Linked DNA regions of Homo sapiens: regions 2 and 3 are each linked to region 1. The links come from fine-mapping of genetic effects on gene expression. A gene starts in region 1. Each other region holds a variant in brackets. All regions are shown on one strand. Distances are from middle to middle.

The links. PIP is the estimated chance that this variant, and not a neighbour inherited with it, causes the effect. A credible set is the group of variants that fine-mapping cannot tell apart.
Region 2: its variant is the best candidate, but not a certain one, in a credible set for the expression of DDO in nasal epithelium (TOPMed, PIP 0.62).
Region 3: its variant is the best candidate, but not a certain one, in a credible set for the expression of DDO in whole blood (TOPMed, PIP 0.68).

What each region holds. Positions count from the first base shown.
Region 1 is chr6:110,413,261-110,417,533 of GRCh38, forward strand. DDO (D-aspartate oxidase) reads right to left here and starts at 2,315. Exons shown (of 5, transcript NM_001372108.2): 1 at 2,207-2,315; 2 at 31-206. The coding sequence starts at 202. It overlaps LOC105377936 (a long non-coding RNA gene), which reads left to right and starts at 2,384. Exons shown (of 2, transcript XR_942856.2): 1 at 2,384-2,527.
Region 2 is chr6:110,470,239-110,474,408 of GRCh38, forward strand. All of the region lies in intron 1 of SLC22A16 (solute carrier family 22 member 16), which reads right to left. Among named protein-coding and RNA genes, the nearest start is that of SLC22A16, 4.3 kb to the right of the region's middle. The variant C/T (reference allele first, on the strand shown) is at 1,651.
Region 3 is chr6:110,375,741-110,380,013 of GRCh38, forward strand. No RefSeq gene overlaps it. Among named protein-coding and RNA genes, the nearest start is that of METTL24, 20 kb to the left of the region's middle. The variant C/T (reference allele first, on the strand shown) is at 2,099.

The DNA of each region.
Region 1 (4,273 bases):
GTATCTGATAGAGGAGCTGAAATCTCTCACCTGGATAAGTGTGAGGAATAAGCATTCCGGCTGCCACATCACTGGTGGTATCTGGAGTAAACTTGTCTGAAATGATGGTAACGGAGCATCGGGGCACCAGTTTGGAGATGCACACAGCCGTGGAGAGCCCCACCACACCTGCCCCGACAACTGCAATCCGTGCTGTGTCCATGAGCCTGTGAGGAGGGAAATGGGAGCTATACCCCTTGTTTTAAGGATTTTCCCATCCAGACAAAGTTTGGTCTTGACAGTTTTTTCCTTAGGTCTTCAGCCACTCAGAATAAGACTTAGCCTATTGGTGTTTCTTGTGAGATAAAGAGGATAACCCCATAAGCTCACTTTCCATTAAATATTGGTGTATAAGCAACAAGATCTCCATGGGCTTTTAGAGAGTAACACAAAACTGGCTTGGATTTGCCTTTAGAACACCTAGCCAGTAAGTAGGTCTGCATTTGGAGGAGTTTTCTACTCATTCTTCACCCTTCCCTTTTTTTTCCCCCTGAAAGGGGGTCTTGCTCTGTTGCCCAGCCTGGAGTACAGCGACGAGATCTCGGCTCACTGCAACCTCCGCCTCCCAGGTTCAAGCAATTCTCCTGCCTTAGCCTCCTGAGTAACTGGGATTACAGGTGCCCACCACCACGCCAGGTTAATTTTTGTATTTTTAGTAGAGATAGGGTTTCAGCATGTTGGCTAGGCTGGTCTCGAACTCCTGACCTTGTGATCCGCCGGCCCCAGCCTCCCAAAGTGCTGGGATTACAGGCGTGAGCCACCATGCCCGGCTTCATCCCCCTTTCCTAAACCATTTTCCCTATGGGCACAACCTAGGGAAGGTTGACAGAAAACCACAGAGCTGTAGTCTTTGCTCCCAGAACTACCTGAGGAGCAGTGGTGAGGGGCATGACCCATGAGCAACTCAAAACTCAACTCTGTCTACAAAGTTGTTTCTAATAATAAGGACATTACAGAAAGTTTCAGCAGCTGAACTCAGTCTCCTCTGCCATCTGCCACTGTCACCGGCCCCCTGTCTGTCCTGGACAGGTTCTGTAACCTGAGGAGCAGTCCGTGGTCTCCTAGCCTCCACTCCCTCATCTGTAACACAGAACAGATGGATTACTTGCTCCTTTGGGTGGTAAATAAGAGAGACCCAGTGAGGCGGTCTCATAAAGGGGGCTCCTTGGGAGAGTCTGAATGGAAATGCAGGGGACAGACATCCCGGAGCCCGGGCCAGGTGTCCTGAGGCTGGCACCCTCTGTCCCACCCCTCACCCACGGAGCCTTGCTCCACTGTCAGCATCCCCGCCTGCCTTTGCTTCCCTGTTTTTGGCTTTCCCCATCTGTTCCTGCTCTGACTCTTTCTGTATGGCTCAGGTTTAAACTCCAGAGAGAGAAAATGCAGTTGTACCAGTTGGTCATTGCATCCCCTGTTGGACAAAATTCTAGCACCAGGCCAACTTGCTGGGCTAAACCAGCCTCTGAATGTGCCCTTGGCATAGTTGCCCTTCTCTGTCCAAAGCACAGTAATCAGGGTACTGGGCCACATGGTACAAACCATGGCCACCCACACACAGAGGTTCACCTTTCCTCTGGAAGGCTGGGCAGCTTCCTCAGCAAGGGCTGTTGGCAGGAAAAACGTGGGCTTGGTTGTTAGTGGCCTCTGCTTTCTCTTCCAGTTCTGAAGATTCTCGCACTATGAGACTTTAAAGCCCTCCAATGAAGTTTAGTGTGATATTCCTATTCCTCGAGCAGTCTATGCATTTCTGTGCTAATTTGATACGTTAATTTGATTGCTGTACAGTGGGCTGGTCAGCTGAGAGAGAGTGGGCCTGCCAGGGCTGAGGGAAGAGAAGGGAACGGGCCCAGGCCAGAGCAGTCTGGTGGGGGCCAGCTTGAGTAGAGCTGTCCTGCAGCCACCAGTGACCTTATTGACTTCGCTGTTTCACATCAGCCTCCCATGTCCAGCAACTCTCTCAAAACAGCTCTAATAAACTAAGTTGAAAGGGCAAGCAATCTGTGGCTAAGAATAACCAGCTGCCAGGGAGGAGGAGTGAGCGAGCAATGTGGTGTGTCCTGGCACAGTGGCCTGTCCATCACTGTCCCCTGACCCTATTCAGACACACTCCCAAACTCCCAGAGCATGGACGGAACGACCCCTCAGCTGAAAGCAAGAATTCAAGTACCTGTCTCTGAAAAAGCAGTCTTGGAAGCCACCAAAATCTCTGGCACCAAACCTTGTTTCCCAGTGCCTGGCTGGTCTCATGCCCTGAGAGACAGAGAGAAAGCGAAACTGATTCCCATTGGTGACTTGATTCAGGACATTCCCCCTGGTCTTCCTTTCCATTGGCCTGCATGGCTGTCTCTGTCACCCATTGCCCCGGAGAAAGGAGCAAGTGACCTCAACCTGTCATCTCCATGGCGCTGTCTCTGCCAAGCCCTTCCCTTTCTGGCCCACGAGCCCTCTGTCTGGCCGCCAGCCTGGGCTTTCTCCAGCTGATTTGTAGGTATGGTGAATAATGGGTGAGCCTGTCCAACTTCCAACCTCGTTTGGCTGCCCACAGTTAGCCGGGTGCCTGGCTCTGCTGGGTCAGCTGGTGGGGGAAGCAGGAAGGAGGGGGTGAGGGCTGAGTAATGTTGTTGATTGATTGGAGCTGGAAACACTATTCAGGAGATAATCTAGGATAGAACCACATGATTCTTTAGCCCAGCAGTCCCCAGCCTTTTAGGCACCAGGGGCTGGTTTCATGGAAGACAATTTTTCCACAGACTGGGGATGGGGAGATGGTTTCAGGATGATTCAAGTGTGTTACATTTACTGTGCACTTTATTTTTATTATTATTCGTTGTAATATATAATGAAATAATTATACAACTCAACATAATGTAGAATTAGTGGGAGCCCTGAGCTTGTTTTCCTGCAATTAGATGGTTTTCTCTGAAAGTAATGGGAGGCAGTGACAGATCATCAGGCATTAGATTCTCATAAAGAGCACACAAACTGGATCCCTTGTGTGCGCAGTTTACAGTAGGTTTGTGCTCCTATAAGAATCTAGTGCCTCAGCTGATCTGACAAGAGGCAGAGCTCAGGCAGTAATGCAAATGATAGGGAGTGGGTATAAATGAAGACAAAGCTTTGCTTGCTCACCCACGGCTCACCTCCTGCTGTGAGGCCAGTTCCTAACAGGCCACGGACTGGTAGTGGTCTGTGGCCTGGGGATTTGGGATCCCTGATTTAGCCCACATATTCAAAGAAGGGATTCAATATTTGATGAGTGTCTACTGAGCTCTAGGCATGAGGCACAGTTAACAAGTTTGTTTCCAGGGAGGCAGTGTGATGTGTCAAATTAGTGACAATAATATTTTCAATAATGTATATGTAGCATTAACCATGTGCTAGACACATGTATGACATCATATATCACAACCACCCTATGAAGTAGGTACTATTATCACTATCCCCATTTTGTATATGAGTACATTGAGGCTCCAAGACAGTAAGGAAGGGTCCAGGGTCTCTTAAATGGTAAAATCCAGTCTGGATATCTGACGTCAAGGCTCAAGCTCTTTTTTTTTTTTTTTTTTTTTTTTGAGATGGAGTCTCGCTCTGTCACCCAGGCGGGAGTGCAGTGGCTCTATCTCAGCTAACTGCAAGCTCTGCTTCCTGGTTTCATGCCATTCTCCTGCCTCAGCTTCTCTAGTAGCTGGGACTACAGGCGCCCGCCACCACACCTGGCTAATTTTTTGTATTTTTAGCAGAGACGGGGTTTCAACATGTTAGCCAGGATGGTCTCGATCTCCTGACCTTGTGATCTGCCCGCCTCGGCTTCCCAAAGTGCTGGGATTACAGGCTTGAGCCACTGTGCCCAGCCAAAGCTCAAGCCCTTAACCAAAACACAAACTTTGGTTTCAAGAGACCTGCATTTTTACCTTGAGCAAATCACCTGACTTCTGAGTTGGATTGCCCATCTGAAAACTGAGAATGAACTAAGAATCCCTTGCAAGTTGTTGTAGGTCTCTGATAAGTTGAGATATGTACAATTCTTTGTAAGGTGGTCTGAGGGCCGGTGAGGGGGTGGTGGGGAAAAGCAACTTTTTCTCTGGCTATGCTCAATACTGTCACAGTCACTGAATACAGAACACTTTCTGTGACCAGGTGTGTGGGGGTTGTCTCCCTACACACCAAGCATCCCATTCTGCAGATTCCCTAGCAGACACTTCAGCTGCATGTCCTCTAATTCAATTCAATTCTG
Region 2 (4,170 bases), 57 kb after region 1:
AATATGACTGGAAATAGAACATAAATCATGTACGTATGGTGCACATATTTATAATTATTTGACTCCCATCCCTGAAATTTCAACTCAGCAAACGACAACACAGCCCCTGCAAACAGCAGGCATGTTTAACTTGCCTAAAGTTTACCTGAGGCATTTGGGTTTGTTCCCTAACTAGTCTCTACCTGGAACAGCTCCACCACTGAAAAGCTCAGGTTCTGAGCATGACCTCCCACCCTCTTACTTCCCCCATCCTTCCCACTGACCCCATTTCCAGCACCATTCAGGCGTCCAGTCTTCAGATCCTACCAGCTTCTTCAGTTAGTTTCTACCTTCCTGGCCTCAGTTTTTTTCTTCCTCAGCCAGTGACCCCCACAGTCATCACCACATCACCAGAACTATTCTCTCTCTCTCTTCCCCTCTCCTTCTCTCTTTGTGTCTTTTTCTCTTGTGCACACACACACATACACCAACACAGCACCCACCCTGGCAGGCCTCTGAAGCTAGGATTTGTCTTTTCTGTCCCCCTCTTAGCAATCGTGATTCAGGAGGTCTAAGGTGGGGTCAAGGCCCCTACAAGCTTAAGAAGCTTCTTAGGAGATGCTGATACGGATGAAAACATTGCCCCAGGATATCTAGTTTTCTGGTTAAACTATGTACTGGTACAAGGTTTGACATTCAAAATACTGGACAATTGTTGTGGAGCAACTGAAAAACCAATAAACAGCTTGTGAGGGTGACATTTGTTATAACCATTTTGCAAAACTCTCTGGCAGGGGACCACATGCACCGCCTGTGACAGCATCTCCTAGGTATCTACCCAGCGAAATGCATACACAGGTAGAGCCACATGCCACAAAACGACGTTTCGGTCAATGATGAACCACATATACAACAGTGGTCCCATAAGATTATAATATTAATATCATATTTTTACCACACCCTTTCCATGTTTAGGTACACAAATACTTCCCATTGTGTTACAATTGCCTACAGTATTCAGTACAATAACATGCTGTGCAGGTTTGTAGTCTAGGAGCAGTGGGCTATACCATAGAGCCTAAATGTGTAGCAGGCTGTACCATCTAGGCTTGTGTAAATAAAATCTGTGATGTTTGCAGAACAACAAAATCACCTAACGATGAACTTCTCAGAAGTATCTCTGTCGTTAAGCAAAATATAACCCTACCCTAAAAGACAAATGCAAGAAAGGCAACTCATATAAGCCCAACCTGGACACAGTCTAAACGTCTGTTGACAGTAAATGAATGAACCGTGAAATATTTGTGCCATTAAATACTATGTAGCTGTGAAAATCGACTAACCTCTGTGACACACAATATGGGTGGATCTCACAAACACAGTGTGGAACAAAAGAAGCCAAAGGGCAAGTGCCTTTTACCCCACTTATGTAACATTTAGTATCGTTGATGTAAGGACAGTAGTGAGCTTGGGGGACAGGGACGGAGTAGGGCTTGGGAGAAGGCATAAGAGGAGATGATTTGGGTGGGGGTAACACAGGTGTGTTCACTGTATGACAACTCATCAGGCTGTAGATTATGGTGGACACTTTTCTGCATATATGTAATATATCAATTTAAAAGTTTTCTATCTACAGCGCCCAGGGAGAGGGAAAACTATTCAGCAACACCC[C/T]TGCTGAGGCACAGCTGGAACAGGTGCCAGGCATGCCTAATCTGTCCACAAGGCACTGGTCCAGCTGGACTGCAGCCCTGGGTGGCCACCTGATCCATATTGACAAGGGGGCATTTTCCCTGAGCAACAGATTATCTACCCAACTTCCCACTTGATGTCTCCACCTGGAATTCCCACAAGGAACTCAAGGTAAACCAATCTCAAACTGAGCTCGATATCTAGGCCTGCCCCGCCTGGAGGGTAACTTTCTGAGTTTAGGCTACCATCACCCACACAAACTAGAAATCCAGGGCATGGGACATGGGGTGGGCTAGGAGGGGCATGTGGTCCCATTCACTTCTCCTTCATGCCTTAGGGCCAAGAGCTCCCATCAACTCCACCTGCTAAAACTGTCTGGTTCTCCCTGCCCACACTCCCACTCTCCAGACCCTCTTTCTCTCTCACCTGGGCTCTTATCTAGGTCTTCACTGGCCCCCTTGCCCCACTCGCTGCCCCTCCAATCCACCCTCTGCACTGCAAAACCCAAACTTCTGATACCCAAACTTTGCAAAAACACTCATGGAGATGACTGTAAGCTTACCTCCTGCCTCTCTCACTCTCATATTTTATACCCCCAAAATAATAAACCACTAAGTGGCCCCCAATCAAGCCATGCTAGTTCACATAAACACACTTTCCATGTGCTAGAAAGGTCCTAAGCACTCCTTCAATTCAAATTTCCCTTTCCCTTTTGCAAGAATAACCTCTTGAAAAAAAACCAAGCCCCATTTCCTTAGGCGTCTAGCATTCTAACACATCACTCTCTCTTTTACAAAGATTCTTGGCCCTCAGAGGTGTCATGCATGTACCCAACCTAGGGGTCCACCAGGACAACAGGCTTATAGATATGACACTCTAATGGAAAAATAATCACACAAACACAATCGGCAGAAAACCCAGAGGCGAGGAAAAGCAAGGGCGGCCAGAAGCCCCAGGGAATGGACCCATGCAATCTGAGTGACGGATGAAGAAAACTGCTTTCAGTCCTAGATTATACCATTCCATATAAAAGCATAACTGGTGGAGTCCATCATGGCTAAGAGCATGGACTCTGGAGCCAGACTGCCAAGGTTTGATCTTGGCCCTGTTACTTACCACCAGGGACCATGAGCAAGATCCTTAGCCTTTCTGTGCCTCAGTTTCCTCATCTAAACTATGGGCTTTGTGGGAATGAAATGAGTTAACACATGGAAAGCACTCTATGACACACCGTAGCTGTATATAAATGATAGATGTTATGATGTTCACACACTGAAGTCAAAAAAGAGCCAGAAAAACTCTATATACTGAAACAAAACAAAACAAAACCCTACCTCTATCCATTGATGAAGGTCTGCCACAGGCTCCACATTCCAACTCTAAACTTTTAAACCGTCTCTCCTCTTAACCCAGGACAACTAACTCAGGGATCCAGGTTCAGATCCTCCCAACACAGGTGCCTAAATTTCAGTCTTCTCAATTTCTTTTCATATGGAGCTTAAGCTGTGAAGTTTATGGAAACGATATGGTTTCAGGAGAAATCCTGGAATGGTATTTTAGTTCTTCTCAGGTATCCTGTTTTCCCTTTTTTTTTTTTTTTTTTTTTTTTTTTTTTTTTTTTTTTTTTTTTTTTTTTGAGACGGAATCTCGTTCTGTCGCCCGGGCTGGAGTGCAGTGGCGCAATCTCGGCTCACTGCAAGCTCTGCCTCCTGGGTTCACGCCATTCTCCTGCCTCAGCCTCCCAAGTAGCTGGGACCACAGGCCCCCGCCACCATGCCAGGCTCATTTTTTTGTATTTTTAGTGGAGACTTGGTTTCACTACATTAGCCAGGATGGTCTCGAGCTCCCGACCTCGTGATCTGCCTGCCTCAGCCTCCCAAAGTGCTGGGATTACAGGCATGAACCACCGCACCTGGCCTGTTTTCCCCTTTTAAAGGTGACTAGAATAGTGCTTCCTTATTCTAGAAATGACCAATGAGAAATGAGAGGTAATCAGGGTTCTCTACTGTAGGGGTCCCAAAGCCCCAGGCCATAGACCAGACTGGTCCATGGCCTGTTAGAAACTGGACCACACAGCAGGAGGTGAGCAGCGGCCAGCGAGCATTACTTCCTAAGCTCCACCTCCTGTCAGATCAGCGGCGGCATTAGATTCTCATAGGAACGTGAACCCCATTGTGAACTGCACATGCGAGGGATCTAGGCTGAGTGCTCCTTATGAGAATCTAATGCCTGATGATCTGAGGTGAAACAGTTCCATCCTGAAACCATCCTCCCGACCCCACCACAGGTCTGTGGAAAAAATATCTTCCACGAAACCAGTCCCTGGTGCTAAAAAGGTTAGGGACCAGGTCTGTGGAAAAAATGTCTTCCACAAAACCAGTCCCTGGTGCTAAAAAGGTTGGGGACCACTGCTCTACTTAACACTTTCACTAGGATCCCTTAAAGAGAGGACTAAATAATCATCACAATAACTTTCCTTTCTGTTTATAAAGAATAGATACC
Region 3 (4,273 bases), 38 kb before region 1:
GGTTAACTGCAAGACGTGATGAATATGTAAGCAAAGCTGTAGTTACATCTGAATAGTTACAGATTTTTTAAATTCTTTTTTTTCTTTTTTGAGACGGAGTTTCACTCTTGTTGCCCAGGCTGGAGTGCAGTAGCACGATCTCAGCTCACTGCAACCTCCGCCTCCGGGGTTCAAGTGATTCTCCTGCCTCAGCCTCCCGAGTAGCTGGGATTACAGGTGGGGTTCACCATGTTAAGTCAGGCTGGTCTCAAACTCCTGACCTCAGGTAATCCACCGGCCTCGGCCTCCCAAAGTGCTGGGATTACAGGTGTGAGCCACCAAGCCCAGATTTTAAAATTCTTAATAGCAAATATGGAGGACTTAAAAACGAGTGGAAACAAAATATAAGAGAACAATAACATAGAAGATGGGAGAGGTGCTTGGGATTACAGTATTCTAAGATTCTTATATTGATTGGGAGGAAAATGATGAGGTTAACTTTACACCTTTTAAGTCAAGTATGCATATAAAATATTTAGGTTAACTACTAAGGAAAATAGGAAGGAAGGGAAGGAGGAAAAGAGAAAGGAGAAGGAAGGGAGGAGGGGAGAGAAAGAGAGAGAGGGAAGGAGTGAAGTGTAACATCTTAACTAGTGGCAGTGGAGAGGGGAAGGACTAAAAGAAAACTTGATCAACCTAGGAAGACAGGAATGGGGGAAGGAGGTAAAAAAAAAATCCTATGGCATCATGTCTAGGGCACCGTGGGCAAACCACAGATTAAGGGAGAGGGGAGCATGAGTAATTCAGCTGGACTGGCTATTTAGACAAGCAGTCTAATTGGTGGCTCTAAGGAAAAGGAGCTCCTAGTATTTTGAGGGGGAGGTGGAATGTGGGAGGGAAGACTAGATCCTAGGTTGAGGCAAAATTTCCAATGCTTTTTTTTTTTTTGCATCATGATCACCTGAGGAGCTTCTTCAAAATTCTAAATCATGAGCCATATTGCATATCTAATAAATCAGAATTTCAGATAGTAGGACCTAGGAGGTATATTTCTAAAATCCCTTCTGGTGCTTCTGGGGCACAAGAAGCAAGTCTGCTCCTGGGGAGGAAGAGGAAAGGAGTTGGCAAGATCTAAGCAGAGGCTCAAGTTCTCAAAGAAACAAGATGGGGTTCAACACAGGATCCTACTTCTGGCACAGAAACCAGCGATATACCAGAACCCCCAGGCAGCAGATAAGCCAGATCTGCAGAGCTTGGCCTCAGCCCTGCTGGCTGGCAAGTGCTCAGGCCTCCCAGATGCCAGCCTTGGTGTCTGATCTGGTTAGGCATTGTGTCCCCACCCCAATCTTACCTTGAATTGTAGCTCCCATAATCCCTATGTGTTGTGGGAGGGACCCGGTGGAAGATAAATGAATCATGGGGGCGAGTCTTTCCCATGCTATTCTTGTGGTAGTGAATGAGTCTCATGAGATCTGATGGTTTTGTAAAGGGGAGTTTCGCTGCACAAGTTATCTTCTCTTGTCTGCCACCAAGTGAGATGTGCCTTTCACCTTCTGCCATGATTGTGAGGTCTCCCCAGCCACATGGAGCTGTGAGTTCATTAAGCCTCTTTCTTTTGTAAATTGCCCAGTCTCGAGTTATGTCTTTATCAGCAGCGTGAAAACAGACTAATACGGTGCCATGACTGATTCAGTGTCCTGGGCATGGTTGATGATGGGCATCCCTTGCACTGCCAGGCTTGGACATCACTGGCCAAGGGACTGAGGTGGGCATCCAGGTCAGGGGTCTTTGGGACCTGGACTGGAGGGCTGCAACGCCATCCATCTTTTGGCCTAGTCCAGGTTTTCTGTCCTCCTCAGAGGCTCAGGTGGCTGAGGTTCTAGCATGCCCATGCCCAGGCCCACGAGTATGCTCTTGGCATGGCCTAAGGCCTGGTTCTCAGCCCTAGCTGTTCATCAGGAAGCTCCCAGAGAAGCTGTCAAACATAGACATTCCTGGTTCCCACCCTGTGAGATTTTGATCTGAGAGGTCTGGAATAGAGCTTAAGCACCTGTATATGTTTAACCCCCCAGGTGATTCTAATATATAACCAGGACTGGAAATCTAAATCTGTGGTTCT[C/T]GATCCTGGATGCACATTAAAATCACCAAGGTGGGGGTGGGAGCAGATTTTTTAAAAATACTAATACTTGCCGTCTGTATCATAAAGATTCTAACTCTCTTGGTCTGGCAGTGGGCCCAGGTATGTTTTTTAGTTTGTTCAGTTGGTTGGTTTTGGGTTGGTTTTAGCTGCCCAGGTGATTCTAATGCACAGTCAGGATTGAAGACCCCTGGTCCAGAGGATTTTGTTCAGGGAAGTTAACTCGTATTTGAGTGAGTGCCAGGAAAAGGCAAGCCCTGGGGAAGATCCGACATACTGAAGGGCTATTGGTGGGCCAGGTAGACAGCAGTGCGCTGGGGCAGTGTGGGAAGGGCCAGGCGGAGACAAGCCAACAGCCTCAACAGAAGGCTTTCTGGCCAAAGCAATTTGTTGACACAGGTCTGACTTTTTAAAATCTATTATCTTGGGGGCCAAGATGGCTAACTAGAAGCAGCAGTGCTGAGAGGCTCCCATCCAAAATAAGCCATAATAAGTGTATGAATTCTTCACCAGCAACCAAGGTATCCAGGTTCTGTCATCAAAATTGACTAGAAGGCTGGCGTGACCCACAGAGAGAAAGAAGAGCAGTGTGGTGGGGCAGCCCACCTGAGAGCCACACAGGGAAGGGGAACCCTTGGGCCCCCTCACTCACCGCCTCCCTCCTCCAGCCGAGGGAAGCAGTGAGTGAGCACTCTACCCAGCAGGGGAAACTGTGCTTTTTCCACAGAACTGTGCAACTCACGGATCGGAAGTTCTCACTGATGAACCCACGCTACCGGGCCTAGCATCCTAACCGTGGAACATGCAGATTTTTGAGGCCTCTCAGCTGGAATCTGCTTAAGCCTACCAAACTCCCTGAGGGAGGAGTGACCAGCAGGGGCTGCGGCTGCCTGCTGTCTAAGCCCTTTGAGCTCTTTGGGGGCGGGGCAGCAGCCAGCACTGGGACTCACAACTGCCTAACACGCTAAGCTCCTGGGCAGGGGAATAGCGGCACCCATCTCTATACCTCCAGGCTGCACTTTTCCCCTGCTGGAGCCAGGGAGGCTGAGTGGTTTGGTCCCAAGAATTATCCCCACAGCCCAACACACCACCTGTGGCAGTCTGCGGCCAGAGTGCCTCTTCAGGTCTAACCCATCTTTCCTAATTGGGCGGGGCTACCCTGCAGGATCTCCAATAATGCCAGCCAGAGGCTTAGGGACAGAATTTGGATGTCCCTGGGCCTGAGCCCCTAGAGGGAGAAGTGGCCCCAGTCTCTGCAGACCAGCAGACTTAGCCTTTCCGGAGTCCTGGTAGTTCTGAGGAATCTGGGAAGCCCAGATGAGTGGGTTTCCCTGAAGTGAAGCCCACCTTCTCCACCAAGGGACAAAGTGCTTCATTAAATGGGTCCTGCTCCCTGTGCTGCCCAACTGGGTGAGACCCTCTAACAGGGGTTGTCAGATACCCTATACAGGAGTGATACTACTGGCATCAGGTTGGTGCCCCTCAAGGTCAGAGGTCCCAGAAGAAGGAGCAGGCACCCATCTTTGCTACTCTCCAGCCTCCTTGAGTGACGTCTCCAGGCATGGGAGCGAATCAGATGAATAGGGCCTGAAGTGAACCCCCAGCAACCTGCAGCAGCCCTACAGAAGAGGGGCCTGACTATTGAAAAAAAAACAAGCCAGCAGAAAGCCACAACAACAACAACAACAAAAGGCCCCCACAAAAACCCCATCCAAGGGTCAGTAGCCTCAAAGACTGAAACTAGACAAACTCAGAATAATGAGAAAGAATCAGTGAGAAAATGCTGAAAACCCAAAAGGCCAGAGTGCCCCTTCTCCTCCAAATGATTGCAATGTCTCTCCATCAGGGGCGCAGAACTAGATGGAGGATCAGATGGATGAATTGACAGAAGCAGGCTTCAGAAGATGAGTAATAAAAAACTACGCTGAGCTAAAGGAGCATGTTCTAACCCAACGCAAAGAAGCTAAGAACCTTGATAAAAGATTAGAGGAATTGCTAACTAGAATAACCAGTTTAGAGAGGAACATAAATGACCTGATGGAGCTGAAAACCGCAGCACGAGAACTTCGTTTAGCATACACAAGTATCAACAGCTGAATTGACCAAGTAGAAGAAAAGATATCAAAGTTTGAAGACCACCTTACTGAAATAAGACAT